Linked DNA regions of Homo sapiens: regions 1, 2 and 4 are each linked to region 3. The links come from fine-mapping of genetic effects on gene expression. A gene starts in region 3. Each other region holds a variant in brackets. All regions are shown on one strand. Distances are between the middles of the regions.

Region 1 (8,041 bases), 52 kb before region 3:
CAAATGTATGGGCCACTCCAAAGGCATACCTGGAATCTGTATAGATGGTTCCTTCCTGGTTCTGTTACTTTAAGGATTGGCTGAGTGCAAACAGCTCACACGTTTGAGCAGACCAACTGTTGGGCAATTTTCCTGATTCTATTTCTGTAAGAGTTTCTCCATCAATCACTGAATACCCATTTTGTCTTTTTTCCTCAATCACCCAGGAGGAACCATCTATGAATAAGTGCTGTCCAGTCCAGAAGGGGGTTTCTCCTATGTCTGGTCTAAAAAATCTAAACATGTGTGTTCCCTCCTTAGATTTGGATTCCCTGTTAGGAAACCTGCTGGATTGAGTGAATTATCAGTGGTCAATGTTAAATCATCCTTTTCTAACAGAATGTCCTCATACTTTAAGATTCTTGAGTCAGTAAGCCATCTCCGTGCTCTCTGGTTTAAGATAGTTCTAACTCGGTGAGGCATGCTTACTGTCAATTTTCCTCCAAAGGTTAACTTTCTGCTTTCCTCGACTAGTATTGCTGTAACCATGACAGACTGGATGCATTGAGGCCATCCACAAGTGACTGGGTCTAAGACCTTTGATAGGAAGGCTACAGGCTGCTGGTGGCCTCCGTGTTCTTGAGTCAGCCTCCTAAAGCTACCCCACTGTCCACATTAACAAAAAGGTGGAATGGCTTTTCTAGGGAGGGTAAGGCTAAAGCAGGGGTAGCTATGAGCCTTTTCTTCAGCTCCTCAACTTGATAAACTTCCTCAGAAGTCCACAGGAGATGGTTAGGCTTCTGCTGGGCAAGTTTTTCATTCTTGGTAGTTTGAGGCAAGGGTAGGGACATGATTCCCTCGATTCATTCAGGCCCTATTCTTCACTTGTCTGCACTTACCAAGTGGCCTAAATATTTAACTTCGGGCTCTACATACTGAAGCTTTCTTTTTGAGACTTGTAGCCCCTCAAACTGCAGATGGTTAAGAATATGTGTAGAGAAGTCAGTTACCTTCTCTGTATCTTCACCAGGTATAAGAATGTCATCCACGTACTGAAGAAGGCATATTTGTTCTGGGATGACAACTTTTTCTAGTACTTGTTCTAAAATTTGGCCAAAAAGATTAGGGGAATCTGTGAACCCTTGAGGCAAGACCATCCATTGATATTGTTGTTTCCGCCCTGAGTGGGGATCCTCCCATTCAAAATATATCAGCTGTCTTCAGCCAGGGGACATGCCCAAAAAGCATCCTTCAAATCTATTACAGTAAACCATTGATGATTATATGGAATCTTGCTAAGAATGGTGTAAGGACTGGGGACAATGGGGTGGGTAGTCTGGACTATTTGGTTGATAGCTCTAAGGTCCTGTACTAGCCGGTATGACCCGTCTGTTCTTGACTGGCAGTATTGGGGTGTTATATGGAGACATACGGGGCTTGAGAAACCTGTCCTTAATAAGGCCTTTGATTATAGGTTTCAACCCTATCCTACCTTCTAGGGGAATAGGGTATTGCTTCCTTCTTACTACTTCTCCCGGGGTTTTTAGCATGATGTGGATCAGAGGGACTTGGAGTTTCCCTCAGTTTCCTTCTTTGGGCAGACATTAGGATTAATATATTTTTCATCCGCATTGGTGGGTAGGTTTCATGAAGTGAGGAATCCTCTTGGGCTGACTTGTAGACCTATGCCCAACTTTAACATTAAATCCCTCCCCAGTAAATTAGTTCCTGCTTCAAGGATTAACAAGAACTGAATATGAGCTGAGTGATCCTCGTATCTAACTTCTGTGCTTTCTAAAATGTTTGCTCTAAACCCTTCCCCTTTTACCCTGGAGACTAAAAGTTCCTCTGAGGAGGAGACAACATTAGACGAGGGGAAACAAACAGAGGAGTGAGCAGCCCCTGAATCAACTAAAAAAGTGATAAGCTCATGTTTAGGTCCCACCTCCAAATTTATCAGGGGCTCCTGGTGGGACTCAAGATAAAAGAGACAGAGCCCCTGACTCCCTTATTCTTCCTTGAAAGTCATGAGTGGAAGGGCTTCTTTCTCCTTTCTTAGTTCAGGACATCCTCTCTTGAAGTGGCCTGTTCTTCCACATCTATAGCACTTATCTTGTCCTTCCTTCCTCTTAGTTCTGGGATTCTTTAACTTTGCTCCCCCATACTCTTTAGGGGGCCTGGTAAACTTGGACCTTGGTCCTCCAGATGGAGGCTGGGTCCTTTAAAATAGGGTTTAGACCCTTTATAGTTTCTGGCTCCCTGGAAACTCTGTCTAGAAGTACCTGGGTTTGGAGCCATCTGTTGGAAGGTGGAAAACATAAGTTTTGTCTTTTGTTTCTGTTTTTCTTCATCCCTTTTCACATATACTTTCTGAGCTTCCCTGAGGAGCTCACTTAGCAGACGGTCTTCCCAATTGTCTATCTTTTGCAACTTTTTTGAAGTGTCTGGCCAACTTTTAGTGACAAACTGGAATTTCAACATTCCTTGCCCAAAGGGATCATCCAAATTGAGGCCTGCATATTGCCTCATTTGCTCCCTCAGTCTGTCTAGGAATCTCATAGGCCCTTCATCCTTTTCCTGTTGTATAACAAATGCTTTAGAAAGATTTTGGGTTCAGGGTACTGATTCCCAAATTCCTTTTATTATCATCTCCCTTAGTTCCTGCATATTTTCCCAGTGACCTGCATCGTTATTGTCCCACTGGGGGTCTCGAGGGGCAGGGAATTTCTGGTCTGCGGTAGGAAAGTTTTCACCAGGAGGGTGCTCACATTCCTAAACTACCATAGCAGCCCTGTGAATCATACTCCTTTCTTCCCCTGAAAAGAGGATGCCCAAGATGGACATTAACTCCACCCAAGTGTATAACTGAGGTCCTAAGAATTGGTCAGTTTGGTCTGCCACTCCATAAGGGTCATCTAGTAGTGGTTTAAGCTCCTTTTTAAAATTCCAGACTTCTGAACTGGTTAAGGGAGCATTTACAAAGCCAATGGCCCTCCCCACCTCGTGGTACCTCTTTCAAAGGGAAGAGGGTCAGGGCTGACCTCTTAGGTACAGAGAGAAATGGGAAATTCTGAATATCTTTTTTACATTGTTCTACCTCACACTAGAGTCCTTTTGGAGAGGGATATTTAGGTTGGGAGGGAACAGGCTGGTGGGACAGTAATTCCCAAGAGTCAGGGTTATAAGGAGGAGGGACAACGTGAGTAGAGGGGAAATTTGGAAAGGGATCTGAGGCGGCAATGGCTGTCTGAGGGGAAAGACTGAGGACACTGAATGGGGGAAGATAGTCTAGGGGATCCCATGCACTGGAGTCTTTAGGCATGAGAGCTGGCTCCTCTGACTTTTAATTTTGATGTGCTAGATTGGGTTCTTCCCTATCTGTTTTTAAGGGAAAAAGAAGGGCAGGTCCTTCCCTCCAACAAAGGGCATAGCCTAGTTCTTCTTGGGACACTGGACTTTTATCATTAATGTATCAGATTAGAAGCTGACACATTACACCCTCATTTGATCCAAACCTTGGCCAGAAGATTGAGGGTCTGAGGATGGGTCCCTGAGTCCAAATAAAACAGCAATATTTTATCATTTGTTGCTTTTTCCTATGTTTAATCCTTTCATTATCCTTTCATTATCTTTCCAGTATTTTAGCATGAGACCTAGGGGGCTATCTGGGGGGATATCTTTGTTACCATCTTTATCCTTCTTGCTCCCTGTCTTGCTTGGGGTATTTCCCATCTTGATGGTTTTGGGGTAGAGTTCAAGGTTCAATTTCCCTTACTGGAAATTTCTCACCTTTTGGGGTGAGGCTCAATTCCCCCCACTGGAAATTTCTTGCCTTTCGGGGTGAGGTTCAATTTCCACCACTGGAACATACTTGCCTTTTCTATTACTGGAGGTTTGTGTGAGGTTCAGTCCCTGCCAATGGGGATGTCTCACCTCTTTTTAACCTCTAAGCCACCCTGACCAAGGAGTACTTCACCACCCCCTGCCACGGCTTTCTTACCTTGCTCCCAACCACCAAGGAAATACTTTACCGGCTCCCATGGTGTCTTTTCCTCGGTCCATGCACACACTTGTGTGGCCCTTATGGAGGATGCTTTAAGCTAGGTTGCTAGCCAGTTTCTTTCCATGTAGCTGAGAGCTCAGGTTATTCTTCACACTGGGTGGGTCTTGATTTCTCACCCCTGAGGCCGCCACAGTGGGGTGGGGTGCACCTCCTCACAAGAGAGAACCAGAGACCACCCCCGGAGGGGAATGTAATCCCGGATGAGCCCCCAAATTGTTATAAGTAAAGTTTCGGTGCCACAAAAGAAATAGCACTCGAATATAAAATTTTCTTTTTAATTCTCAGCAGGGCAAGGTACTTCTATAGAAGGGTATGCCCTTACAGATGGAGGACTGGTGAGTGCACACCTGGACAAAGGAGGGAAAGGGGTTATTTTTCCTTATGCACATGGTCCCTACTGCTTTGTCATTCCCCTATTGGCTAGGGTTAGACCGTACAGGCTAAACTAATTCTGATTGAGTAATTTAAAGAGAGTGACAGGGTGAGTTGTTTGGAGGGAAAAACGGTTATGAAATGAGTCAAGGTGGAGAATGAGTCAGGGTGGAGCAGGTAATCGGAATGAGTCAGGGTGGAAAATGAGTCAGGGTGGAGTAAGTAATCAGAATGAGTCAGGGTGGAGAATGAGTCAGGATGGAGTAGGTAATCAGAATGAGTCAAGGTGGAGAATGAGTCAGGGTGGAGTAGATAATCAGAAAAGGTTGCTTTACAAGGAAGTTAAGTTTAAAAGTAGAAGGCAAAGAATTGAACATACTGTCATATTAATTCTTTGAAGAGAAATTTATAACTCATATTTAACATCATGATTACACAGCATTCATCATTAAGATGAACATCATGGTTCATCTTAAACCGTGAGGCTGAAGTCAGAGGTGACACATGAAGGATATGGCAAAGCCACTCCACTTGACAATGAACTTCAAAAACCACACTGATGTTATAAAACCCAAATATTTTACTGCACATGCTTACTGGCTGACTTGCACAATACTTCCATTATAATTACGGGACAGACACAAAATGAAAAGAATATTTTTAACAAAGCACTTGCACGATGCAGCCGTACCCATTCTTAATGATCATTAATGTCTCATCCAAAGAGAACCATACTTTGTTTCATTTACTGAAGGTCAGCATACTGGGAAGCAATTGTCATCACATCTCAGACCTTTTTGCATATTTGTCCTCATTGTTCTGAGCCTTCATGTGCTCAGACTAGTTGATTGGTGTGTAGATTGTCTGTCATTAAAGCCATTTGGAAATCAGCTTTGTCACTGGTTTAGTGTTGGAACTTCAGATCCTAGAAGACACCACTGGAAAGCTCTGTGCACTAGGAAAGGGAAGGTGCATGGCCCTGCTGAGCCCAACCTCGGGGCTGGAGGAAGAGACTGACCTTGACCTTGACCTTGAGCCTAAGCAATGCCCCAGGACACTGAGACACCACACCTCCAATAAAGAAAAACTGTGAATGGCAGAAGGAAGGAACCATTGTTTGGGGGCTAACAAGGAGAAAGAAGTGCTCAGAATCACCATTCACTGTCGGAGTCACTCAGCAGGGTCAGCTGCTATCAGCCAGGCAGCTGAGGCTACAGGTCAGGAGGCCACAGGTCCTGTGAATAACCCACATTCCAGACATCAGCATTTCACCCACATGACTCCACCTCTTATCTGCAAATGGGGCCACCCTGAAATCACTTTGCTTACGAAGGAGGAGAAAGGGGGTGGCCCGTCTCTCTGAGTCCTGCCCCTCCTAAAACAGAGCCATGAAGCCAGGTCTTCATGATGCAGCCATAGCATTGCAAACTGTTTCCCATTTCCCCAGAACATGTTTCTAAGCTTCCAGGTCTTACCGGAAAGGCGTCCTAATCCAGACCCCACAAGAGAGTTCTTGGATCTCAT[G/T]CAAGAAAGAATTTGAGGCAAATCCGTAGAGTAAAGTGAAAGCAAGTTTATTAGGAAAATAAAGGAATAAACAAATGGCTATTCCATAGACAGGGCAGCCCCAAGGGCTCCTGGTTGCCCATTTTTATGGTTATTTCTTGATTATATACTAAACAAGGGGTGGAGGGGTGGATTATTCAAACCTCCCCTTTTTAGACCATATGTGGTAACTTTCTTATGTTGCCATGGCATTCGTGAACTGTCATGGTGCTGGTGGGAGTGTAGCAGTAAGGATGACCAGAGGTCACACTCGTCACCATCTTGGTTTTGGTGGGTTTTGGCCATCTTCTTTGCTACAACCTGTTTTATCAGTAATGTCCTTACAACCTGGATCTTGTGCTGACCTCCTATCTCATCCCGTGACTTAGAATTTCTAATCTACTGGGAATGCACTCCAGCAGGTCTCAGCCTTATTTTACCAAGCCCTTACTCAAGATGGAGTTACTCTGGTTCAAACACCTCTGACATTTCCCTCCCTCTCTTTTATAGGAGAACCCTTAATCCTAAGAGTTGTAGAGGGTCAAAGACCATCTTTTGTAATTTTTTTAGGCTGAACAGGGGCAATGATATTCCTAACTATTGAGTTTCTTGCATTCAGGGTAGAGAGGAGTTTAATTAGAAAGCATTGGTGTGGCAAGGGCCATTCATAACTTTTGAGTTCCAGCAAAAGGTGATATCTGGAAGATTAATAAGTGTTTAATTTAAGAGAACATTTGGTAAGCTTATTCTGCTTTTTACACAAAGAGTACAATGGCAATATGTTTTACAACAGTAAAGCAAAATAAGTAAAATTATCCCAAGTAAACTAAATTAGAAGGCATTTTATGAAATGGGCAATTGTTGAAACTGAGCTGATATGGGATTGCTAGCTGATTTTAATACATGCCCAAAATTAGAATATTGATTTAGACTTTTACATTACCCATACATCTTGTTTCTTCTGAGCAGCAGTCATAGATCACTGGTTGGTTCACAGGAATAAGAAAAGTTAGTCTAAATTGCAGGAAAAAAACTTAAAAACAACTGATGAGACTAGAATTTAATAACAGGTACACCATAGTTCTTGAAACATAATGTTTTTTCTTTCCCATCTCCCATTTTTACCAAAGACAAATTGTGGTATGACTGATTTGCTTTATTATACTTGGCCTGATTATTTGTATAAAGTGCAGCAAGAATAATTATTATTCACACAGGCTTTTAAAATTGGCTTTGATGGAATTTTGTTCCATAGAAGGAATCTCAGTTAAGACAGTTTTTTTAAAAGCAGAGTTCAGACATGGGTTTGTATCCTCAAATACCTATATGAGTTGGGTGAATTTTTTTCTTTTGAGGTTTTAAGATAACTTGGGGCTCCTGGGCCTGTCAGAAAGTGACATTTTTTACTTAACACAGGTCAGGAACCCTGTACAGGGACTATGTAGACAAGGTATGAGGCCAGTTTTACCAAGGGGATTTTTTTTCTTTTAAGACAAGAGTCTTGCTCGGTTGCCCAGGCTGGTGTGCAGTGGCAAAATCTTGGCTCACTGAAGCCTCCACCTCCCAGGTTCAAGTGATTCTCATGCCCCAGCCTCCCAAGTAGCCGAGATTACAGTCACATGCCACCACACCCAACTAATTTTTGTATTTTTAGTAGAGACAGGGTTTCACCATGTTGGCCAGGCTAGTCTTGAACTCTTGACCTCATGTGATTTGCCCACCTCAGCCTCCCAAAATGCTGGGACTACAGGCATGAGCCACTGTGCCCAGCCCCCAAAGGGTTTTCATTGGCTCTGTAAATTAAGCTTGATTCCTTAAAGGAAAGCACATCACTCCAGTGAAATCCTTGGTAAAATAACCAGTTTCTTTAATTGTGTCCTGTTGCAAAAGAAAGCAGATTTTTATTTCACTTATGCAAATAACTGTATTGCCATAAGAATACTTACAAATAGTTTCCAAATTCTGAAGAAATCAGGTAGAGAGAGGCAAATATGCTTCAACTTTTGTTCACAGGAGTAGACTTAATTGTTAAAAGCTGTAAATAGCTTAAAAGAAAAGTTTCCTTGACTCCGAAAAACAAAACAA
Region 2 (8,041 bases), 43 kb before region 3:
TAGATTTTGAGAGGGACGTATCCATTCTTAATTCCTGGGGTTTTATGAGAAAAACAGAATTTTTCCAAAATGGGGTTTGTGGTGCCTCCTCTGTTTTTCCCAAGGAGTTCCAGCAGGTTAGAAATTGAATATCTGCTTTTAATTAAGCTGATTTTTAACCACAGAGCTCTTTATTTTTCTTTTTTTCTTTTTTTTCTTTTCTTTCTTTTTTTTTTTTTTTTTTTTTTTGATATGGCATATCGCTCTTGTTGCCCAGGGTGGAGTGCAATGACGTGATCTCAGCTTACCGCAACCTCTGCCTCCTGGGTTCAAGAATTCTCCTGCCTCAGCCTCCCGAGTAGCTGGGATTACAGGCATGCACCACCACACCTGGCTAATTTTGTACTTTTAGTAGAGACAGGGGCTTCACCATGTTGGTCAGGCTGGTCTTGAACTCCCGACCTCAGATGATCCGCCCGCCTCAGCCTCCCAAAGTGCTGGGATTACAGGCGTGAGCCACCACGCCCAACTGAGCTCAAAAAAAAAAAAAAAACCTTTTAAATTTCTTATTACCCAACTTTAGCCAGGCCAAACGGCCAGTATTTCTGGCTTTTGAACTTTACCAAAGGTAAACTCCCAGGAGCTTAGAGAAAGGAAAATTTAAAACCATTTGTGGAGGGGAAGAGAATTAACAAATGTTTACACAGATATTAAACCAGAAAGGACTTATTTTTTAAGACAGGAATTGAGCCCTGAACCTGGGCCGCCACTGTGAAGAGAGAAAGCCTTAGCTACTGACCTACATACAGCCTTGGGCAGTCTCCATTGCTCTTATCAGAAGGAGCCCAGAGCAGCAGATTTTGAGCTTGTGAAGGCTTTTAACTGCTTGAGATGATTTTTAGGGCTAACTTACATGAACTCCAAAATTCCTATTCTCCAGATGACAGAGACCAAGAGAAAGTACCGCCATATGGTTACAAGGTCAAGCTCCCAAGGACATGAAACAAGATGAGAGGAAAACTTTATTCAGTTTTTTTTTTTCCTCAGGGACCTGCAGCAAAGTTTGTTACTGACCAGTTTGCAAGGCCATTTTGAACAGCAGGCTTATGGGGTCCTAAGCCTGCATTCTATCCTAAGTTACCCCTCTTTATGACAGAACAATACAGAAAAATATGCAAAGCACACCAGATTTACTACAGCTTAAGACTAGCCTTACGAATCCCTTTTCCTATTAATCAAAACTTTATAGAAAGAGATAAACTGATTTTTACCATTCATTCAACGGGCACAGAGAGAGAGAATGGTTTGCACAGAGAGAACGAGAGAGGCCAGAAGTCTGACTGGTAAGAAATCCTTTCCCTTTTGCTGGCATGCCAGGCTGGTGGGTTCCCTTTCCCTGAATGGCCCTAGTGACCTGGCTCGCTGCTCCACAGCCCTGGGGACAAAGCCGCGACACAAAGGAAAATAATCTTTTTCTGTTCTGGCCAGAGCAAAATACATGACAAAACATGGACATTAGCCACTATGCTTAGCACTCAATATCAAACTGGCAAAGCTCAAGCTTGCCCCCGGTTGGGCCCCATCACTTTTTTGTTTTTTGTTTTTTGTTTTTTTTGAGACGGAGTCTCACTCTGTCGCCCAGACTGGAGTGCAGTGGTGTGATCTCGGCTCACTGCAAGCTCCGCCTCCCGGGTTCACGCCATTCTCCTGCCTCAGCCTCCAGAGTAGCTGGGACTACAGGCGCCCGCCATCACGCCCGGCTAATTTTTTTTTTTTTGTATTTTTAGTAGAGACGGGGTTTCAGGGCCCCATCACTTTTAATCCAACCCCCAACCGGGAGTTTCAACTTGTGGTCTCTGGGCAAGATGGTCGCCCTGAGTAATAGAAAAGATAAGAAAGGAAAAGGAAAGAGAGAGAAAGCAGTGCCTGTGGCAGGGTGGGGAAGGTGAAGAGCTCAAGGAGGCCAGAGAAAGACCCAGCCATTGTAGTGACACTGAAAAGTTCGGGCAGCCGCTTGTCAGTAGCAAAGGGATCTTTTCCAGCAGTCCCATCAGCTCTCAAGTTTCCCCCTTTAGGGAGCAAAAAGCCCCCCATGTCCCATGATTCTGTCACCCATAGCCATCAGCAAAGAGTGCAAGGCAGATTAATCCAAAGAGAATAGCAGTTAACATCCCTTAGTGCCAAACATGTTCTTAGCTGAGAGGGACCTTACTGAGAGGGGCCTCTAACCCCCTAAATCTTAGGAAGGACTCTAACCCTCCTAAGTTGGGCCTTGAACCCAAGTTCAGTCAAGCTTTCTTGCCTTTTATTAAGAGTTGCCTTTAACCCACTCTGTCTTAGGAGAGACTCTAACTCCCTTAAGTTGGGCCTCTAACCCAATCCCACCCTTCACCCGGGTAAATGCAAATGACTTACAAGGTCAGCCAATCAGTGTGCAGTCTATTTCCTTTGGGTTGGGGGTCTCTTTAGTATCATCTCTTCCATGGTTCACCGGAAAGATTTTACAAGAAAGTGGTCTCAATCCAGACCCCAAGGGAGGGTTCTTGGATCTCACGCAAGAAAGAATTCAAGGCAAATCCATAAGGTGAAAGCAAGTTTATTAGGAAAGTACAGGAATAAAAGAATGGCTATTCTATAGACAAAGTAGCCCCAAGGGCTGCTGGTTGCCCATTTTTATGGTTATTTATTGATGATATGCTGAAGAAGGGGTGGATGATTCATGCCTCCCCTTTTTAGACCATATAGGGTAACTTCCTGACATTGCCATGGCATTTATAAACTGTCATAGCGCTGGTTGGCATGTAGCAGTGAGGACGTCCAGAGGTCACACTTGTTGCCATCTTGGTTTGGGTGGGTTTTGGCCATCTTCTTTACTGCAACCTGTTTTATCGGCAAGGTTTTATGACCTGTATCTTGTGCTGACCTCCTGCCTCATCCTGTGACTTAGAATGTCTAACCTCCTGGGAATGCACTCCAGCAGGTCTCAGCCTTATTTTACCGAGCCCCTACTCAAGATGGAGTGGCTCTGGTTCAAACGCCTCTGACACAGGTGCATGCATTGCGGGTGCTGTCATGAAAGAGGTCAAAGTGTTGCTTTCACAAAAGGAGATGTGCCCTCTTACTTTGCTTACCTCAAAACAGCTGGGTAAGCCTAGACATCCTTGGGACCAGGATGTTGTCTCGGCCTCTCAAGGGACCAGGGACCAGGAGGGCAGGCTTAGCTCAGAGCTCCTGGGCAATTGTCCTCCATCCTCACAGCCACCCCGAGGATGAACATTTCCCCCCATTTTCCAGACAAGAAGCCCAAATCCCAAAGAACTTTCCCAGGGCCATCTCTCATGGCCTGCAGGAGGGACTGGAACTCAGGCAGGGCTCTGTCAGGCCTCTGAGCTGGAGCTAAGCCATTGTAACCCCTGTGACCTGCACGTATATATCCAGATGCCCAGCAGGAGCCAAGAAGCCTGGAGCAGCCAAGAAACCACAAAAGAAGTGAAACAGTCAG[T/C]TTCTGCCTTAACTGATTAACCAACCTTACGACATTCCAACATTATGACTTGTTCCTGCCCTACCCTAACTGATCAATCGACCCTGTGACATTCTTCTCCTGGACAATGGATCTCATGATCTCCCCACCATGCACCTTGTGACCCCCCTCTCCTGCTGACAACAGATAACTACCTTCAACTCTAACTTTCCACTGCCTACCCAAGTCCTATAAAGCTGCCTCTCTCCTATCTTCCTTCGCTGACTCTCTTTTCGGACTCAGCCCACTTGCACCCAAGTGAATAAACAGCCTTGTTGCTTACACAAAGCCTGTTTAGGTGGTCTTCTATATGGATACGCGTGACAGGCTCCTTCCTCTAGAGGGGGCTGGTGGGCACCCACAAAACGGTATCCATTTAAAGAGAAGCAAATGCAAATTCAATGAACATTGTTAAACTATAGGGCTTTTATTTCCCCCTAGGTTCAAGTTCTGGACTGCCGTCAAGTTAGTCAAGTTTTAAAAATATGGATGACGATATGACCACAGTATTTGGTAAGGAAGCCCCTCCTATCAACCTCTGGCCTGTACATGAAGGGGACTGGATGGTTGTCTGTGGCTTTTTCCCAGATAACCTGGTACCAACTGCAGACAGTGGAGGGAACTGATTGGTTTGGGGCTAGAATCATATACCAATGGCCCATAGCTTTACTGCTGACATCTAAGAGTCAAACTCTCAAGAAATTAAGGAAGACAGAATTTTAGACCATTACACCTAAAAAGTGCGTGGGAGCCTTGCTTCTCAAAGTGAGGTCCAAGGACCCTCAGCGTCTGCATCATCTGGTTTGGGGAGCTTGTTAGAAACGCCCAGCGGCAAGCCGGGCCCAGCCCTCCAGCACCAGCACCGCATTCAACCTGATGCCACCGATTCCTGTGCACCTGAGAGGCCCCATGGCTGAGCCGTCCCCTCCTCCACCGCCTCAGCCCTGCCAGCCCCCTGGAAAGATGGTGGAAACTACAGACCCCCTGGCCTCACCCCGGGGATGCAGGCCGTGCTGGTTTGGCTGAGCCTGGTGCCTCTGTGCTTCTCTAGGGCTCTGCAGGTGATGCTAAAGTACAGCCGGCTGAGAACTGCTGCCCTGGGCCAGGGCCGTCCAATAGAAACACAGCATGAGCCGAAGATGTGCTTTTCATTGTCTAGTGGCCACATTAAAAAGATGCAGATGAAACTCATTGCAATAACATTGTATTTCACGTGATGATTTCAACATGGGATCAGTGTCAAATTACTAGTGAGATGTTTCAGTCTTTCCATCACGCTGGCTCTCCACAGTTCCATGTGTCCTTTGCCTTCACGGCCATTTCCACGTAGACAGCCGCGCTCCAGGGTGTGAGCGCTTAGCCAGTGCCTGCACTTCTGCTCTGACCTCTCGTTTTACATGTGGGTAAACTGAGGCCCAGAATGCTGGGACTCAGAGCATGCAGTCCTGACCCCTGCTCACATCGATGCCCTTGGGAAACAGTCACCTCCCAGGACCTCTCTGCCAGCATTGCCTGTGGAGTGGGGTCGGGGTAGAGGATGGGGCCACCTTCCACCCGGCAGGGCCCGGGACTGCGGCTGTGAAGGCTGCACGGCCTCGAACAGGGGCTCCCGTGGGAACGCAGGGCCCCCAGGTGCTGGGCCCTTTCCAGGAGCTGTCGCTGTCAGAAGTCAGGCTTTGCTCCCTTTCCACATCTGGGTGGGAGAGGCCTGGGAAAAGCTCTGCCTGCCTGCGTGTTTGATGGGTTAGGTGGATGGATGAGTGAGCGCTCCAGTGAATGAATGGGTGTTCCCATTCTCGCTTCTGCCGCCCCGTCCACTTTCTGGGTACTCAAGCGAACTGCCCCAGGCAGGAGTTAGACTCCCCAAGGTCAAGGAATGGCTGTGACTGGACTCACTTTCCTGGTGAATCTGGCGGTTGCCAGATTCTGAGAGTTTTAGTCCTGAGACCAGCACCTGCTCCAGCCAGTGTCTCAGCCACCCCCAGAGAAACAGTGGCCTCAGAAAAGGATTCTGGAAGAGGAAAGAGTGGCTGGCATTTCTGATATTTTTCCTGGGTCCTGACCAACTAAACCTAGAAGGAAGCAGCAGCTCTTACCCCCATCCACACCCCCAGATTTCTTCTAGGTAGAAAGCTGAAAGCATTGACAGTGAGAATTCAAATCCCTGTGGAGGTCAGTGAAGCCCACCCAGGCAGGCCAGGCCGAGACTCTCTGTCCAGAGCTTGCTGTGGGAGGGCAGTCACCACCATCACGTGCAATCTCAAAGCCTCTGAGTCACCATCACATGCAATTTCAGAGCCTCTGAGTCAGGCAGGGGATGGGGCCTCACTAAGGCAAAGGAAGCCCAGGTCCCGTGCAGGCTGCAGCTGGGTGTGCTGGGGGTGGCTCATCAGACGGGCGGTGAGGGGTTGGTGAGGGAGCATGTGTGGCTTTCTCTGGTTGGCTCTGAGTTGGAAGCGAGGACAAAAGCCATAGGACCTGTCGGTGATGGATGCATTCCTGGCCCTCTGGGGCCGGCTGGTCCAGGGATTGCGTTGTGGCTGCCTGAGTCGTCGCTAGAGGAGGTCTGACTTCTGGCAAGTCTGACTGTGGAGCAGGCCAGCCCCCTGGACTGGCTGCTGCAGGTGTGCTTGGCTCTGTTTTGATGGTTGTGCTCGTCATTGTTTGTATTTCAGCCTCTCCTATCTCAAAAAATTCAACCATCAGCAGTTACACATGGTTTTAAAACAAAGAGCTTCCTAACCTTGTTCCACTTGCTGGCTTCATCTCTACCTAAAGCGTTTTTCTAGCCCTGACCAATCTCCCCGAGGGTAGGGAGGCCCGTGGAAGGGTCAAGGCAGCCTTTCGCCCTGGGCAGCTCACCACGGGGTGGCTCGGCCTCCTGCCTCTCTTTGGCCCCCAAAGCCCTGACTGCTCTCCGAGCAGGAACGCGCCTCCCCGCAGCTGGGCCTCCATCCGCCCATCTCAGGGAATCCCAGGGTGTCTGCAGCTTGAGGAGTTTGGGTCCCCAGGAGGCCACTCCCAGCTTCGGGCATGGAGTGGACTGGGTCACACTGGGACAGGTCAGGGACTGTGGGTACAGTTGTTAGAGATGGAGAGTTGCAGAGACAGCCCATCCGCCATGGACGGGGGTGATCCCCAGTAACAATGGGGCAACCGAAGCCAGAGTTGGCCAGGAAGTTCAGACAGTGCCCCAGGAGGGCTCACTTCTTAGGGCTGGTCAGCTGAATCCTGTCCTCTGCCTGCCCCAATCTGCCCTGGGGACAGGGCATTTGCCCTTGGTGGGTGCTCTGTTACTGCTGACCTGCTGTGCCTGCTCACAGCTATAGAATCCTGACTCCTGGACATGGCTGGCTGGAGTGGGACAGAGACCAGTGACTGAGGCTGGGCTGTCTTTGGCCCCCAGTACCTGGCAGTGTCTGGTTCAGATGAGTGCCCAGTAAATGCTTGCCATTCAAATGCATATCCACTCTTCTCCAAGACCCCATCTCACTGGACACCACGACTGTTTAGGAACTTGGAATTCCTAAGATTGGTGCTTCCGTCCAATCACTGGCCCCAGCGGACAGAGCCTGAGTGGCAGCGCCCAGCCCCTTGGCTGGGATCCTGGGGCGCCCGCGGCTAAGAGGCAGGTGGCACGCAGCTCTGGTCCGGCAGCTCCGCAATACGAGGCCATGTCCCTGAGGTTGTCCTGGCCTCTCTTCAAGCTCCTGCCTCATGATCAAGGATGGTGTCCACAGTGCCAGACGCCTCGTCCACTCCCAGGGCAGGAGGCGGGGGTGCAGGCCTGGACACTGGTTCCCCTTTTATCAGGAGGAGCAAATTCCTTGCAGAGCTGGTAGACTCCTCCTACCTTACAGGGCTGTAGCCCACCTGGCCACAGAGGGCCTCACTGGGGGCACACATTGCCAAAACCCAGCTCTGTGAGCGAGAAAGAGGGACAGCGCGGCTGCTGGGCGAGACACCAAGAGCCCAGGACAAAGCATTTTTCTCGGGCGTATTGGTGGCATCTTCATTTCCAGCCTCTTCCCCTTTACCTTTGAATTCCGCACGAGCTGGTCCTAGAGAGACCAGACACCCACTTTGCCTGGGGCTGAGGAGCTCCTCTTTGAGGGACTTTTTGGGCTAAACCCAGAGGGCCCCAGCAAACCAGGACCCACTGCTCAGCCCAGCACTGCAGTCTGGCCTGGTGACTGTGCTGCAGAGACAGCGGTGACTCTCGGTTGCCACAACACCTGGCCATGGCCCAGGATCCGTGCTGAGCGCCTTCTGCATACACTGCTTTATTGGACCCTCAGAAAAGCCCACAGGCAAATACATACCCCCGTTTTACAGACAGGAAACCCAAGCTCAGAGCCGTGAGGATGCTTGTCCAAGATCACATTCTGGTGGGAGCAGAGCCTGTGTGTTTTTTCTGGGTCTCTCAGACACAAAGCTCAGGGCTCTCATGGTAAAAGCTCCCTAGGAGGACCCATAGGGACGTAAAAGAAGAAAATGAGGCTGTGTTGACACAGAGATCAGGAGCGACGCTTACTCACACAC
Region 3 (8,041 bases):
CCTCCATCCCAAGTCATCACTCCCTCCCTTAAATGGCACAACAAAACCCCTCATTGGTTCCCAAACTTTTTGAAAGTAAAAAGCCACTCCTTAGCATGGCATGCTTAATATGGAACATCAACTGGGGCCTACCTTGCTCTCCAACCCCACGTCCCTCAGGGCGCACTGCTCCTGGTGTAATAACGACACTCAAGAGATGCCCATCAATGTCTGTCACACGTATGGACACTGAATCACTGTGCCATTCACACAACTGAGCCCTACCCCACTTCCACAATTTCTCATACAATGCAATCCTTTTTTGAAAAAAAAAAAAATTCCAGTCTAAAGGCAATCTTAATATGTTAAGTTTTGAGTTTTCCTGTTTTCTTTCATGGATTTGGATTGTATCTTCAAATGCCTAAGTTGGCTTGTGTATGGTTGCTTCATCAGATGAAAAAGATGTTATGAATCTACTCTTCTTCTCTTTGGAGCTTTTAAAAAATGAGAGTCTCAAAGGAAATCTGAGATTGGTAATGATTGTTACAGGAAAGGGGTCCCAATCCAGACCACAGGAGAGGCAGGGTTCTTGGATCTCACTCAAGAAAGAATTGAGGGTGAGGCCACAGAGTAAAGTGAAAGCAAGTTTATTAGGAAAGTAAAGGAATAAAACAATGGCTACTCCTTAGGCAGAGCAGCCCCGAGGGCTGCTGGTTGCCCATTTTTATGGTTATTTCTTGATTATATGCTAAACAAGGGGTGGATTATTCATGTCTACCATTTTTAGACCACATAGGGTAACTTCCTGATGTTGCCATGGCATTTATAAACTGTCATGGCGCTGGTGGGAGTGTAGCAGTGAGGATGACCAGAGGTCACTCTCGTCACCATCTTGGTTTTGGTGGGTTTTAGCTGGCTTCTTTACTGCAACCTGTTTATCAGCAAGGTCTTCATGACCTGTATCTTGTGCTGACCTCCTATCTCATCCTGTGACTTAGAATGCCTTAACTATCTGGGAATGCAGCCCAATAGGTCTCAGCCTCATCTTACCCAGCCCCATTTAAGATGGAGTAGTTCTAGTTGGAATGCATCTGACAATTATCAGAGTTGAGCAAAATCTGGGTGACCAACCAATTAGATCACTGGCATTGGGAATAGTCAGTAGACACCATCCTATCCACAATCCTCCTGCCACAGTTACAGGATCTGTCTTGGGGATCCATCACCACGTATATATGTCAGTCTACTCCTGTACAGCTAAATAAATATGTATATAGTCTAAATAATCCTTTAAAAAACCCAGTCATCTGAAGTGAGGAAAGACGTACACGAAGTACCCTATCACTATAACCTATTTTATCTTCCTAGCCCTTAATACTCTATGCAAAATAAATTCCAAAGTTAAAAAAAATCTAACAGTGGGTTGGAACCTAGGTCTGGATATTATTCTAAGCTCTGCCACAGGCATGCAGTTTGCCCTTGGACAAATTCCTTGACTTACCACCATCTCTGTTTCACCATTCCCAGAATGCAGCCTAGCAAGTAATCCCTCCCTTTCATTACATGGAGGACAAGATACACTCACGTCCTTTCGCAAAATGGGACACCTCTCTCCTAAGAAAGATGGAAATCAGGGGGATATATTTTAAAGAGATTAGATTAAAATCAACATGGCATGTGAGAAGAAAAATGATTACGTTCTAGAGTAAACAAAACCTGAAATGAGTTTATAGTCTATTCTCACCCTTTTGGTCCAAACAAAAAAGTATTGCTTGATTATTCTTTCCTGCTTCACTAACAGATTACAAACTCCCTGGGAGAAGATAGATTCTATGTGTCATATTTTCCATTCATTAGCAATTGCTCACTGAATTGAAATATTTGCTACTTCCCCACTATAGAGTGTTTCTCAATGTGTTTCATTCAGCATTGTACTCAACAAATGTTTGCTGTATGAAGACATGTCTGTGTTGAGTGTTTACACCACTAGTTAACAACTTCCCTTTGTTAAATCTTAGGTTTCTATTTTTTCGTTTTATTAACCAATGCTGCAATATGCTTTCTCGTGCATCAGTACTTCCCTAGACATCTAATTGCCTTGTTCAATTTGTGACGTAGAATTTTGCAAAAAGGAAGTTTACACAGCGAAAAACTATATATACAAATGAAATAAAATACATGATTTAAAAAGACCGCATATTTAGAAGCAAAGGAAATATTCATAAACATTGTGGTTATTCCTCAATAGTGAAATTACTGATGCTTTCATAATCAGAATAAAATTACATATGTAATAAAGTCCGTGATACTGTCATTCAAAATAGGGGATTTGGTACTCCCTTACATTTATACAGTTCTCAACAAAAAGCCTTTTATTGTTTGCTCTGTCTGGTCTTCTCGCTTATCTCTTAAACTTGCAAACGTATAGTCCTAGCCCACCGCACTCGGTTCCGAAGAAGGCGTCCCTCGGACAAAACCGAGGAATCTGTCCTGCTCTGTAAGGAACTAGGGCTTGCTGATTCCCAGATTTTAACGAGAATCCCTGCTCCCCGTAGGCGCTCCATAAATTTTTACTGGACAACTTCACCGCGCGCTACTGGGCCTCCGGGAGACCCGTGACTCCCACCCGCTCTGGGCGCGGGCCCGCAGAGCCTCAACCCGCGCCCCCGGCAGCCGGGATTCCCCGCCCGGACCGGCTCCCAGGCTGGAAACATCATGGTCCGCACCCGGGGCGCAGCCGAGACCCACCGCGCCGGAGGCCCCGGGACCCGCTCAGACCGCTGCTTGGCCACTCTACGCCCCTGAGCCCCCCACACAGCCAGCCCCGTGACCTCCGAGCCCCGTGACCTCCGAGCCCCGTGACCTCCAAGCCCCGGAAGCCGCTGTAGGCAGCGGCCCAGCCAGGCCCCGCCCCCTCCACCGGAGCTCCACGCGTCAATTCCAGCCAGGCCCCGCCCCCGGCCGCCCCAGGCGTGGACCCAAGCCAGGCCCCGCCCTCTGCCTGGCTACTCCAGGCGCCCACCGCCCCAGGCGTCCTCTAGCCCAAGCCCAATGCCCGGCTGCTCCAGACGTCGACAGCCCCATGCCCCGCCTCCTAATCGGCTGCTGCTGGCGTCCTCTGGTCCAGGCTCCGCTCCCTACCCGGCTGCTCCAGGCATCCTCTAGGCTAGACCCCGCCACCTACCGGCCGCTCCAGGCGTCCGCAGCTCCAAGCCCCGCCCTCCGCCCGGCTGCTCCAGGCGGCCTCCGGCTCAAGCCCCGCCCCCTGCCCGGCGGCTCCAGAGGTCCGCGGCTCCAGGCCCCGACCCCTGCCCGGCTGCACAAGGCGTCCTCTGGGCCAGGCCCCGCCCCCAGCCCGGCCGCTCCAGGCCCCGCCCCGCCCCCTCTGTGCGCGCTCCGCTCGGCAGCCTGTGGGACGCGACCGCGGCGCTAGTCTCGTTCCTTTGTGCTGCGGCGGCGGCTTCTCGAGTCCTCCCCGACGCGTCCTCTAGGCCAGCGAGCCCCGCGCTCTCCGGTGACGGACCATGTCGGCGGCGGGAGCGGGCGCGGGCGTAGAGGCGGGCTTCTCCAGCGAGGAGCTGCTCTCGCTCCGTTTCCCGCTGCACCGCGCCTGCCGCGACGGGGACCTGGCCACGCTCTGCTCGCTGCTGCAGCAGACACCCCACGCCCACCTGGCCTCTGAGGACTCCTTCTATGGCTGGACGCCCGTGCACTGGGCCGCGCATTTCGGCAAGGTGGGTGCGAACGCTTTAAGGCGCCATTTTCCCCGGCTGTCCAGTGGGAGTCGGGGAAAGCGGGTCTGAGGTGCGGGGGACGTGGGGCGTGCCGGGATCGCGGGGCGGAAGCGGGATCGACGGCGCCTGTGCCCCGAGGGGCCTAGGGCGCCTGTGCGGCAGCGCTCGCGGCCCGGAGTCGCGGCGGGGCAGCCGGGGGGCGCGGGGCGGAAGCGAGGTCGGTGGCGCCTGCGTCCGGAGGGGCCTAGGGCGCATGTGCGGCGGCGCGCGTAGCAAGTTTCTAACAAGGCGGGCTCCAAGGGTCCCGGCGCCTGTTGGCCGGATCCTGTGCGAGCGCGCGCGCGCGCGGATGGTGCGGGGCCCTCCAGGCCGGGCCGGAGGCGCGAGCGATTTCGCAGAGCCGGGTATTAGGCCGCGAAGTCGCCCAGGCGGCTTCCGGGGAGCCGAGCTGGGGTCAGAGGCGCGCGGGGAATGCCCGGGCGCGGTCGACCTTCTGGTTCCGCACAGCCTCGCCAGTAGCCGAGGGCCGCGCTGCGGACGAGCTCAGCCGAGGAGCAAGCGCCCCGGCGGGACTGGAAGGCCCCGGCAGCTGTGTGGGATGGAGGCCGGCTCTCCAGCTTCTGGGTTTGCTTTAAGGCTTGTAGCTGGCCCCGCTTCAGCAAAATTAGTGACGGCTGTGTTTATCTTGGATCTAAATTACTGCAGAAGTGGTTAAATTAAGCAGAATTCTCTTCCCGTGGAGGCTTTACGTTCCCCTCTTTTTTCTTAAACTGAAAATTCTGGGGGAACACAGTGCTGCTTTAAGGTTTTAAAAGGTTGGATAGCTACCGTTTCCTCATCTGTGAAGTCGTTGGGGTACTTGCTCTCAGAAATCTTAAATAAGATTTCACCGTGCATTTCAGAAGTGACTGGTTTTAATTAATATTTCTTAATTCACTGAAATTCAGGGATGTGTATAGTGTTTTTCTCGTAAGTGATGAGATGGGGTTAAATGGTTTTGCAGAAATATGTGAGAGGTAATGTGAAATAAGTTACTTTAAGAAGGCCTGGCCCTGGTAATGTCGTTACCAGCTGATGAAGTTGCGGTTTACCTTGCTGCCCCTGGTGCTACATTCACAAAGCAGCTGTGTCTTTTGGAAAGCAGTTTCTGATTCTTTTAAAGTGGAAAAGTCACTTTTCTTTCAATAAAAGAAATGAAAAGGAGTTTTGACGATCGGGGTGGGACAAGCAAGTTAATCAGTCCTCAAGGGCTGTTAGGTTCCTGTGGCACTGTCTCTGAAGTTGTGCAACCGTAGTACCTGCTGGAGAAAACAGGTGCCCAGGGGAAATGAGTTTCTTAACAAACAAAAGTAATAAAGCCTCCTCCCTGCGCTTCTGCGTGCAGCCTTAAATAGATTTCCCGAGGCAGTCAGTAATCTGAGGATTTCCTCCCTCCAGAGTGTCTCTTGCTGTGGTTTATTTTTACACTAAACTTTAGGATTCTGTCCTTTCTACCCTGGTTGAGAACGACACAATACTGGGTGATAGTCAGTGAACAACGATCTGTAGAATGCTTAAAGCCTCATTACAGATGGTCACTTAGAAAATTTAATCCAGTGGTGCCTCCACTTGTCTCTGGGGATTAAAATAGTTACTTTAAAATGGTAATTTTTAATGTGTATTTTATCACAGTTTTTTAAAAAACACCGACTGAAATCACTTTTCAAAAGTCTACTTCCATGGGACTTTGAGTAGTAGCTTTACCTTGGTCATCAAATGTTGTAACAAGAAGCAGTTACTTCATTGTTTCCAGCTGTCTGAATCATAGGGCTCTTTGGTCTTAGATACGGAAGGGGCCTTAGAAAGCCCCTGTCCAGTGTCCAAACATTCCCTTCTGAGAAGAAGCCGTTAGGACAGAAATCAGGCCAGGACTCAGGGCTACCGCTTGCGAAGTCCAGGCTTTCTCCCCAGCCCTGCTAACGGCTGCCCTCTTACACAGGTTTCAGGCTCGTGTTCTTAGAAATGTGCTAGTGGTGCACAAGATCCCCTAACCGTTGGTAAGACTCGTTTGTTGCCAGAGGACTAAACGAGTTGTTTAAAATCTCTGTTGTAGCTTTTATACCATATTGAACAGTATCTTTCCAGAATTCCAAATCCAAGTTTCTAAATTGAACCCAAGGGTAACAGGTTTAAAGCCAGCGAGCCCTGAATAGCTGATTTTTGGTACGCCAAGTGATTTTCATCCGTTTTATTTTTATTGGATTTGCAACCTGTTCATCTTATCGCTAATTAATACTTTCATTTTCACCCAGTGAATTAATAAAGGCAATAAATAGACATCAGCCTTTACTCCCAGGTCCAAGTTGGTTGAAGAGGGTGTTTTGAATCTGTGTACTCTTCATCTCACAGGAGTGTTTACTGAAAGCCTGAAAGTGCTAAGAGAAATGGAAAAAGAAACCTTGAGTTGAGATGGTAGTGTCAGGTGTTTTGTCTTCAGGTGAGGTCTCTCCTCTTGAAGAGAATTGCTTGCAGTCAGGCATAGCTTGTTCCCTAACTGCATTGTGATTGGAGTGAGGGAAAATGAGCAGTCCAGGATCAGAGAACGTGGGTTGAACAGTTGCTTGGCACATGGTAGGCACTTGGTAAATTTGTTGAATGCGCTAAATTATTTTAGCCAGAGGCTATCATGGTATTGGTGCTTGGCCACAAAGTCTTAACTTGCCATGTTAGTCACCCACTAGGTGCATTGCTCAGTTATGCTGTAGGCTTTTTTCCCCCATAGGGTTTTGAAAAGAGTAAAAAAATGTGGAGAATGGGGCCTCTATTGATTATTCAATGAGTATTCAGTGCTGGCTTGTGTAAAAGTGCACAGTTGTGCACACTATAGAAAATAGTCTTTGACTATGACGAGTTTACTATGGCTACACAAAGTTTGTGGGGTTTTTTGTTGTTGTTTTTTGTTTTTTTGAGACAGGGTCTTGCTCTGTTGCCCACGCTGGAGTGCAGCGGCGTGATCTCTGCTCACTGCAACCTCCACCTCCTAGGTTCAAGTGATTCTCCTGTCTCAGCCTTCTGAGTAGCTGGGATTCTAGGTATGCACTACCACACCCAGGTAATTTTTGTAATTTTGTATTTTTGAAACCCCAGTATGGGGTTTCGCCGTGTTGGCCAGGCTGGTCTTGAACCCCTGACCTCAGGTGATCCACCCGCCTTGGCCTCCCAAAGTGCTGGAATTACAGGCATGAGGCACTGCGCCTGGCATTACACAAAGTGGTGGTGGTGGTGTTGGTGTTTGAGATGGAGACTTGCTCTGTTGCCCAGGTTGGAGTGCAGTGGCGTGATCTCAGCCCTCTGCAACCTCCGCCTTCTGGGTTCAAGCAATTCTCCTGCCTCAGCCTCCCAAGTAGCTGGGATTACAGGTGCCCGCCACCACGCCCGGCTAATTTTTTTGTATTTTTAGTAGAGATGGGGTTTCACCATGTTGGCCAGGCTGGTTTCGAATTCCTGACCTCAAGTGATCCACCCGCCTTGGCCTCCCAAAGTGCTAGGATTACAGGCATGAGCCACTGCGCCCGGCCTACACAAAGTTTTTTAACCCACCAATCCCTTTAACGTTTTTGTTTAGAATAGTCTGTGCAACAAACAGTTTTGATAGAAGTCTTGGAACAGCGCAGTCCAATATTTTCTGATTTTGGCTTATTCAATTGTAGGGAAACAAATATTTAAATCTGTATAGTGTTAGTCGTCTTTTTGCATTTTTCTATTTCTATCTACCGTCTTTTTCATAAGGACAAGGGAATATGTTATCTTAAATGTCCTTTAAAATTTGCATGGCATTGGGAAAGAGTGACTTAATCTGTTAAAAAACTGGTAACAATGCCATTTGTCACCATTATAGAATTTCGATTATTCATGTAATATTGAATAGTGTACTGACATGTCTGCGTGTTTTCATTACCCCTCTTGTTTTCGAAGTTGGAGTGCTTAGTGCAGTTGGTGAGAGCGGGAGCCACACTCAACGTCTCCACCACACGGTACGCGCAGACGCCAGCCCACATTGCAGCCTTTGGGGGACATCCTCAGTGCCTGGTCTGGCTGATTCAAGCAGGAGCCAACATTAACAAACCGGTAAGAGTGCTGGTGATGGACTTGGTTTGCTTTTGCTTTTTCTTTTTGCAGTTATAATTATACACGGTATTGCTTTAAATCGAGGCCTTAATTAGAGTTTGATATCTTTACCTGAGGGCAGACTGGAATTTATGTTTCTTCAGTTGTTTGTGGAGGATAGTAGGCCCTTTCCATAGGAATGCTTTCTGTTCATAGAGTGCTTTCACCTGTTGTGTGATAAA
Region 4 (8,041 bases), 25 kb after region 3:
TTACAGAGCTAGATTGATTAACTACTTCTTTAATGAAGATTTGCTATGAATTTGTTTACTCTTTCATACCACCTTCAGATAGCTAGTCAGTTCAGCAGGAGCAGAGACCAGGTTAGCACGCGGATGGGGTGTAATTCAGTGTTTTTGTGTTGTACAGCCTGAGAAATGCCAGTGGCCTGACAGCAGCAGACATTGCACAAACCCAGGGTTTCCAAGAGTGTGCCCAGTTTCTCTTGAACCTCCAGAATTGTCATCTGAACCATTTCTATAACAATGGCATCTTAAATGGGGGTCATCAGAATGTATTTCCTAATCATATTAGTGTGGGAACAAATCGAAAGAGATGCTTGGAAGACTCAGAAGACTTTGGAGTAAAGAAAGCTAGAACTGAAGGTGAGACCGCTTTGCGGGTGGGAAGAGCACACTTATTTTTCCTTTCTGTAATATGTTTTCTTTTTATGGCTGAGCGCACCTTCGAGATGAGACCTTCACTTCAGGTGGTAATGCGCCTGGTGGATTGTGCGGTGACGGTGGAGATTTCTCCTGTACTGCCACTGCGAAGATGGGACTTAACAAAAGGGAATGTGAGGGAAATACTGATGGCCCAAGTGTAAATGTCTATGTGGAACTTTTTGAGCACCCATGTTTACCTGCCATGAATTAGATTTTTTAATTTGTTGTATCTGTTTGAAATATATCTATTAAAGAAAATCTGCCACTGTGCCTGAATTTTTTTTTTTTTTTAATTTGCTTCTTGTAAATGTTCCTGGGCTTATAAAAATTGCTGATGGTCTGGCAGTAAAACATTTTCACATTCGGGAAGGTGAATGTTTTCTGTACTATTTCTGTACTATGATTTGACCTCAGTGGTCTCTGTACCTCACATGTGTGTTGACTTATCACAGCAAGATCTGGTGTATAATTTGATCTTGAGGATTTAAGTCCCTAAGGTAAGTTATTTTCGTTGTAAGTATTCTCCCACCATTTTTTTTTTTTTTTTTTTTGCTCTGTCACCCAGGCTGGAGTGCAATGCTGTGATCTCGGCTCACTGCAACCTCCGGCTCCCAAGTTAAAGCAATTCTCCTGTCTCAGCCTCCCAAGTAGCTGGGATTACAGGTGCATGCTATCACACTGGGCTAATTTGTATTTTTAGTAGAGAAGGGGCTTCACCATGTTGGCCAGGCTGGTCTTGAACTCCTGGCCTCCAGTAAGCCACCTGCCTCGGCCTCCCAAAGTGCTGGGATTACAGGCATGAGCCACTGTGCCTAGCCGTTTTTTGGGTTTTTTGTTTTTTGTTTTTAAGGTAGGTTTGAGTTTGCAAATAAGCAGTCAGCCAGTCACTCTTGAAGTTGAAAACATCTCCCTTTCCTATAGGAAAATCATCTATATCTATATATAAGATGTCTTAGGCCAGTTGTCATGGCTCATACCTGTAATCCCAGCACTTTGGGAGGCTGAGGCAGGAGGATTACTTGAGCTCAGGAGTTCGAGACCAGCCTGGGCAACATAGTGAGACCTTGTCTCTATTTAAAAAAAAAAAAAAAAAAAAGTCTTAATAAGAAGGTAAATGTGATAGCTTGGCAGGCATATTTAGTGAACTTAGGGGGAGAGGTGGGAGTGTGAAGTAATGAAGCAGATTATGAGCTCAGATTTGCTGAGTATAAGCACAAAGTTTTGCCCGTTGGTTTAAAAAAATCAACCGTGCAAGTTACAGCATAAGGAAAACTGAGTGACTATCAGTTAATCACTTAAAAATCTAGAGATTTTGGTTAAATTTCATGAACCAACATCATCTTTTCTACCTTATTTAATGAGTGTGTCCAAGTGAAACATTTTTTCCCTATAAAGTTGATAAAATGTCAGTATTATGTACTTCACAACTATATCTTGTCACCATAAAAATTCCTGTGATAAGACTTTTTATAGTAATGTATGAACTTAACAGTTTTATCAAATTCAAGATTTTTATGAGTTAAGCATTTCTGGAAAGATGCTAAAATCATAAGCATGACATGAAGATCTGCATAAAATTCAAAATGGTCTTTTTTAATGGTGATGTATTCAGCATTGTCATTTATTTGTACCATGTTTTAATATATTTTTTCTAATGTAGTTTCAACGCCTTTTTAAGAGCATCCACTTTTTAAAAAAATCCTTTGTCATTTCCTTTAATTAAAGCCTGGTTAGTATTGTAGAGTGGCCTCATGCCCTCATGCACGAATTGTACATGTCTGTCCCTGTATGTCACTGTATAGTCTAAATGTCCTTGAAAAATGATTTATGCTTCATTTTCTCTTATTGCTGATAAATCTTAAATTCTGTTTAGTATTTTTAAAAAGAGATCACTTAACATGCTAATTGGACTCAAAATGCACCTAGAAGAGTTCGTAAAACTAGTCTCAGAGTTTCTAAGGTCAGTTGAATTGGCCAATACCACATTGCTTAATTACCCTGAAAAGCATTTCTGAGGATTCCTTGTTTCCTAATCCTCGTTAACTACATAAATTTGGTTTAAAGAGTCCTGCTGACTTTGGGGGTTTTATTTTCTTCCTTTAGAAGGAGGATTTGTTTTGGTTGACCAGTGATTAGAAGTTCACATTTTGCACATTAAACTCACCATGCAGCCTTCCCAAACTATACATTCCTGGTCCCAAGCCCGAGGGTGCTAATTTAGACAAAAATATGGTTGGAGCCGGCACTTCTGCTTAAGTGTTGCAGGTAATACGTAGACCTAACAGGTTGAGCCACTGTTGCAGGTACACAGTACATGACTGATGTTTCTGTGATTATCACAGTTGAAATATTTCAGCCAAGATGCACATTACTTCAAAGCTGCTCATCCTTGGTTTTCCTAATTTGTATACTGACCATGACTTTACTAATTTCCTGGAACTTCTGATGGTTCTGTCTTTTATGTAGTTGACAGTCCTTAGATTTGCCACACTCGTCACAAGAGTGTGTTTATATTTTTTTGTGTCTGTGTGAGCATAGATGGGCATCTTTAGCTCACCTGCACTCCCACCACTCGTTTCCCTATGGGAAAAGGTGATTTTTTGCCCCCCTTTTACCATTACATACTGAGAGTGCTGATGTCGGGTATTGGGAGTCATTCTTGGTCATTAAAACAGGATTTTTTTTTCTGCCAATTACCTGAATGTTCTACATGAAATTGTTCTTGGTTTCAATAGATATATAATTATTTCCATATTAACTGACCAGTTTTTTAGTTTTGAATTAAAGATATGTTGCTTTAGTTTTCGTTGTAATTTCTGGCATCTTGTTTTGATTTTGTTTAAATGTGTGTTTTAAGTTTTGCTTAATCTGAATTATTTTATTAGGTTTTTGGTTCTCATGCCAGAGTAAAAGAAATGATAAATTCTTTTTTCCTCATTTAACACATGTATATAAAATACTTTGAGTAACTTCACATATAAAAATATTTAGAAGAGTTTAAGCTGGGTTTTTTGTTTTGTTTGGCTTTAAAAACAAAAAAAGTTACAGGTGCCAGGGATAATATCTTGGCTGCGTAACTTGTATCTTACCAATAAAACTTAGTGCGTTCTGTTTTCCTAGAATTTAAGAGTTACAAATATTGATGCTTTTAGTGTGGAATTTATATTTACAAAAGTAATTACTTCCAGAAAGTTTTCTGGCTAAGTCACCTCTTAAGGAGATCCCTGTAAAATTCACCCTTTAAAAAAGAAAAAGAAAAAGCCAAAACACTTTGGAATCCTGAGTCTGAATGTTAACCATTCTTCCCCACAAAAAGTAGTGTCTGCTTTTAGTAAACTACTTTCAAGTATTTTAAATTGGAGGAATTTTCTTTTGGAAGCTGTTGATGTAAAAGATCTTAAGTGAAGAAGAAAGACTTGGCCTTTTGTATTGCTTGAATATTAACTGTCTTGGAAG[GAAGT/T]TATGCTACAAGAAGTCATACTTTCATAAAATTATTTGCATCTGTGTCAAATGCAGTTTAGTCAGAACGTAAGACATAATAGGTGTGGACATGAACTCTGGAGTGTGAAATAAAATCCACAGTTACTTAAGCAGTCTGTTTTGATGGAAAGTATCTTGGGATAATACTTTCCTCAGTGTGGGATTTTGTTCATTTTAGATGGTGCAAGGAAGTATCAGTCTTTAATTTTTTTGTTGTTGTTTTTATCAATCATTTGCTCTGATGGTATGATGCATGGGCTTCAGGACTCCAGCTGCACCACTGTATAAAACTCAGTTCAGGTTTGCTAGCGTTCTTGGTTAATCTTCAGGAATAACCCAATACAATTATTTTTATATGTACTCCTTGGAAACTGTGGTCGTTTTTCAATGATCTTGGTTAGAAAAGAATGCCAGTCCCTTCCATGAGTGAAAACTTGATTTTGCTGATTGATAATTGTTTTGGATGGAGCTCTAGAGTCGTGGGGAAGAAGCAGGGGAACACAGTGAGTTTAAAAACTGACCCAATAACTTCAATTTCACAATTGGGACATTTGCCCCAGAAGTAGGCTGTGGTGACAGCAGATCTCAAGTGTCAAACTGACTTCACAGCTCGGTCTTAATCACATAGGCATATTACTGATCTTAGAATCTCATTCATACTGTGAAGGTATTGAATATAAAAACACCTTACAGAAAAAAGTATCTACAACATGATGATTTAAAGGTAAAATTACCGGTGGAAAGTTTTAACACTTTCCCAGAGTGGATTTAACCTGGATAAAGGATCTCTGCCTTTTGTCCTTAGCTGTTCGTGTTGAGCAGGGTTAAAGACTTGGTAAAGGAGGGCAGATATGACCAGCTGGTTTGTTAAATGATAGATGTTTATTGCTTGAAACTTGAGAGGAAATAAAATGCCTCCCAGGAGTAAATTTGTAATTTAGTTCCTTCTAGTTTAGTTACATATTATAGCACTTTAACTCCTGACGTCCTCACTGTTTTCAAATTTGCAGTATATTTGTTTATAAAAATGTGGCCAGGATGATAGAACACACCTACCTAATTGTGTTCAAATAAGGAGTGATTGTTTTTTCTTGATCCCTGAAGATGTGACGTCTTGAAATACAGTCTGAATTACACTTCCAGTCCAGACAGTGTCTGCGTTTTCCACTGTTAAAAGTCTCCATTTGAGCAAACCTCATGGGCCTGAGTTGTCCTCAGCACAGTTGTGGACACTCCAGTGGGAAGCAAAACGAAGACTGGCACACTTGATCACAAGCCGCTTTTGTATTATTTGAGCCAAACCCCCAGTCCCCCCCGGTCTTTCCAGAGCACTCAGTTCCCTTCTCTGTCCTTTGTCGCTGCTGCTTCCTGCTGCCTGGAGTCATCCCAACCCTCTGCACTGCTGGAATCTGGGCCCTGGCGGGTCCCGCGAAAGGTCACCTCATAATAGAAAAACAATTTGGTTTTAACAGGACCTTAAAAAGTTGAGTAAAATGTGCTCTACAGCAGAACAAAGAATAGTTCCAGGTAATGGCTGGTGGGAAACCAGGAAGGCAGAGTGTCTTTCCTTGCTGCCTTAATGAGAGGACATTGAGGCTTCCCCAGTGGAAGCAGCAGCAGGATGCACTCAGTTCAGTGGAAAGGCCACAGGCGGGAGGGGTCCTGGGCCATTTGGCCACCTCTCAAGGGTTATGGGTCAACACCTGGGACCCTTCCACACAGCACCTAGAGGCACAGTAAAAGGTAGATGACTAATCTAGGTCAGGATCTCAAGCTTTGCCTAAGTTCATTGGGTGAAACTACTTGGCAGTTTCTGACTTGTAAAATGTCTCCTGATTTAGTCTTGGGGAATATAACCAGTATGGCTTGGGTCTTGGGAGTAATGTCCTGCTGGCTGATTGGAGCACTTCATATCCCAAAGTATGACTTTATAGAGTGCTTTTTGGTTTTTTATGTAAAGATTAAAGTTGTGATCAGGCATTTTTCCTAAGCCTTACATGTATCTGCAGGCATGCCTGGCAATTACAGTCCTGTTTTCCTGTGTGTCAGTATGAGTGGTGCACTGGAGTGTCTTCACTCCACCTGGTCAGCACTCCCATAAGCCTCTGTAGTGGCACGACCTTGGTGTCCAATTGCATTACTTCTGTAATGCAGCAGACCTTCCCGGACTTGAAACTAAGACTTTTTTCATGGTTTCAAGCTGCTTGATCCTGAATAGCTCATACAGTTACAGAGTTACTGGGAACTGGCTTTAGGGGTTTTGTGCAACCCCCAAATTTCAGATGAAAATACAAATGCAGACCGTTTAGTTGCCCTGGGCATCAGCCCCAAGTGGAGCATCTCTGTGTGTCCCCCAGGGTCAGGAATGTGGGTTTCTCAGCCAGAGGCGTGCTCTACTGGCTCTAGTTCTCACTTAGGAGGGCAGGCAGTGACCACACCTGGCTTGTGGCTGTATCTCTGAGCAGGGAGGCTGGAGGTTTTGAGCTAGTCCTAGATAGGTTTCCATCCTGAACGTTGTGTCTCAGGTGTACTAGAAGCCTGTCTTCCCAACAGACACCTGACACCTGCTTTTACAGTCAGCAGGTGAAGACCCTTTGAAAAAAGTGGTCATACTAACATTTTCAGAAGCATTCAATCATTGTGTAACTTTAAGAATCAATATTAAGATAGGAAAGTATAGTGCTTCCTTTCCCAAACTGAGTAAACTGATGACCTTGGAAGACATGTTTTTCTGAAATGTCTGTACAGGCCACCCTTCTCAAATGCAAGGTGTAATTAAATGATTCCTTCAGCAATGGCAACAGGTGTGGGGGAAAATGCCACAGGTGGTAGGGTCTTACAGGTCCAAATCCAATGTTCTTAAAATTTTGAGAGGCCAGTTTTAATTTCATGGCTTACAACATAATTAAAAGAGATAATTGCGGGCTTAATATCTCTACCAGCCAATTAACTTATGTATAGCTACTAGGAATGAAGAAGGTGGCACTCGTGAAACAGCATTATCCAAGGCTCTGTGACAGCTGGTTGTGGGAACTACACCGTATAGAGAGGCTGTATCTATGGAGATGGAATGAAATTCTAAGGTTCTGTTGGAATGATTCCCACAATAGAATCTTGATTGGTAAAATATGGAAGCCTTTCATTCTTATCCTGCTTTATTAGAGAAACCATCTGCATTAACAAAAGATGCATCTACTCAATGGAGCAGTTTCTGAGAGGTCCCTGGTCACTGTGAGCCTTATAGTTACAGGATTAATTGTTGCTGGGAGACTAGTGTGTTTCCCGCTGCCTCTTCCCTGGGCTGCCCTTAACGCGGCTCTTCCGGCCCCTAGTGGCACCTCTGCCTTCAGGGTGCATGTCCCTGCACCTCGCATGGCCAGGCCTGCCTGGATGGTTGTGACTCCTCAGGTTGTATTACAGGCTATGCCAGCTACTGATCATTTGTTTTTGTTTACCTTGTGTTTTTGTTTCTCCTGGCTAGTGGGTGGGCTTCATCTGCTGATGTGAGTACTATTCTAGGTACTGGGCCTAGTGAAGGAGAAGACAAACACCCCAGCTTTCGTGAAGCTCTTCTCTGTTGCGGTTTTCTAACCTGCTTTTCAGAGGTGTGAAATTGCAGGTAACCCCTAGTTGCCACTTTATCCGGGGAACATTGGCATCTGAACGCCAATTGAGTGTGTAGGTATTTTAAGCTGTCTGCATTGTATTCCCATCAAAGTCCACTCTTTTGTACAAACCGTGTTCGTGTGTGGCTTTGCAGGATTGCAGCCTGTGGGAGGAGCAAACGTTGACCCGCTCTTGGCTGCAGGTTCTCTGTGTCTGCGTGCCATGAAGGCTCCTGGAGGTTGAGACGACTTTGGCACACTTGGGGGATCTGCTCTTCCACCACCCCCCTCTCCCATTCTTTTTTCTTTTTCTTTCTTTCTTTTTTTCTTTTTTTTTAGATGGAGTCTCGCTCTGTCACCAGGCTGGAGGGCAGTGGCGCAATCTCTGTTCAATGCAACCTCCGCCTCCTGGGTTCTAGTGATTCTCCTGCCTCAGCCTCCCCAGTAGCTGGGACTACAGGCACTCGCCACCACGCCTGGCTAATGTTTGTATTTTTAGTAGT

Direction of the effects. Alleles are on the strand shown, and positions count from the first base shown. SD is a standard deviation of normalised expression in the study named.
As copies of G replace T in region 1, the expression in monocytes after LPS of the gene that starts at base 3,369 in region 3 goes down (large effect, 1.1 SD a copy in Quach 2016).
For the expression in monocytes after R848 of the gene that starts at base 3,369 in region 3, allele C in region 2 goes with a higher level than allele T (large effect, 1.0 SD a copy in Quach 2016).
For the expression in fibroblasts of the gene that starts at base 3,369 in region 3, T is the high allele of the variant in region 4 and GAAGT is the other (small effect, 0.18 SD a copy in GTEx).

Evidence for each region. PIP is the estimated chance that this variant, and not a neighbour inherited with it, causes the effect. A credible set is the group of variants that fine-mapping cannot tell apart.
Region 1: its variant is the best candidate, but not a certain one, in a credible set for the expression of ANKRD10 in monocytes after LPS (Quach 2016, PIP 0.64).
Region 2: its variant is the best candidate, but not a certain one, in a credible set for the expression of ANKRD10 in monocytes after R848 (Quach 2016, PIP 0.73).
Region 4: its variant is the best candidate, but not a certain one, in a credible set for the expression of ANKRD10 in fibroblasts (GTEx, PIP 0.86).

Annotation. Positions count from the first base shown.
Region 1 is chr13:110,962,058-110,970,098 of GRCh38, reverse strand. It overlaps LINC00431 (long intergenic non-protein coding RNA 431), which reads right to left and starts at 4,072. Exons shown (of 2, transcript NR_126378.1): 1 at 3,980-4,072. All of the region lies in intron 1 of LOC105370364 (a long non-coding RNA gene), which reads left to right. RefSeq lists an enhancer at 3,921-5,120. The variant G/T (reference allele first, on the strand shown) is at 5,939.
Region 2 is chr13:110,953,151-110,961,191 of GRCh38, reverse strand. It overlaps LOC105370364 (a long non-coding RNA gene), which reads left to right. Exons shown (of 3, transcript XR_931732.3): 2 at 3,941-4,012. Among named protein-coding and RNA genes, the nearest start is that of LINC00431, 8.9 kb to the left of the region's middle. RefSeq lists a cis regulatory region at 3,363-3,926 and enhancers at 3,006-4,205, 4,471-5,272. The variant T/C (reference allele first, on the strand shown) is at 3,482.
Region 3 is chr13:110,910,397-110,918,437 of GRCh38, reverse strand. ANKRD10 (ankyrin repeat domain 10) reads left to right here and starts at 3,369. Exons shown (of 6, transcript NM_017664.4): 1 at 3,369-3,713; 2 at 7,668-7,820. The coding sequence starts at 3,504. RefSeq lists silencers at 2,528-2,687, 2,818-3,477, 3,748-4,117 and enhancers at 2,055-2,729, 4,228-4,357, 4,081-4,757.
Region 4 is chr13:110,885,380-110,893,420 of GRCh38, reverse strand. ANKRD10 (ankyrin repeat domain 10) reads left to right here. Exons shown (of 6, transcript NM_017664.4): 4 at 158-393. Among named protein-coding and RNA genes, the nearest start is that of PRECSIT, 19 kb to the right of the region's middle. The variant GAAGT/T (reference allele first, on the strand shown) is at 3,910.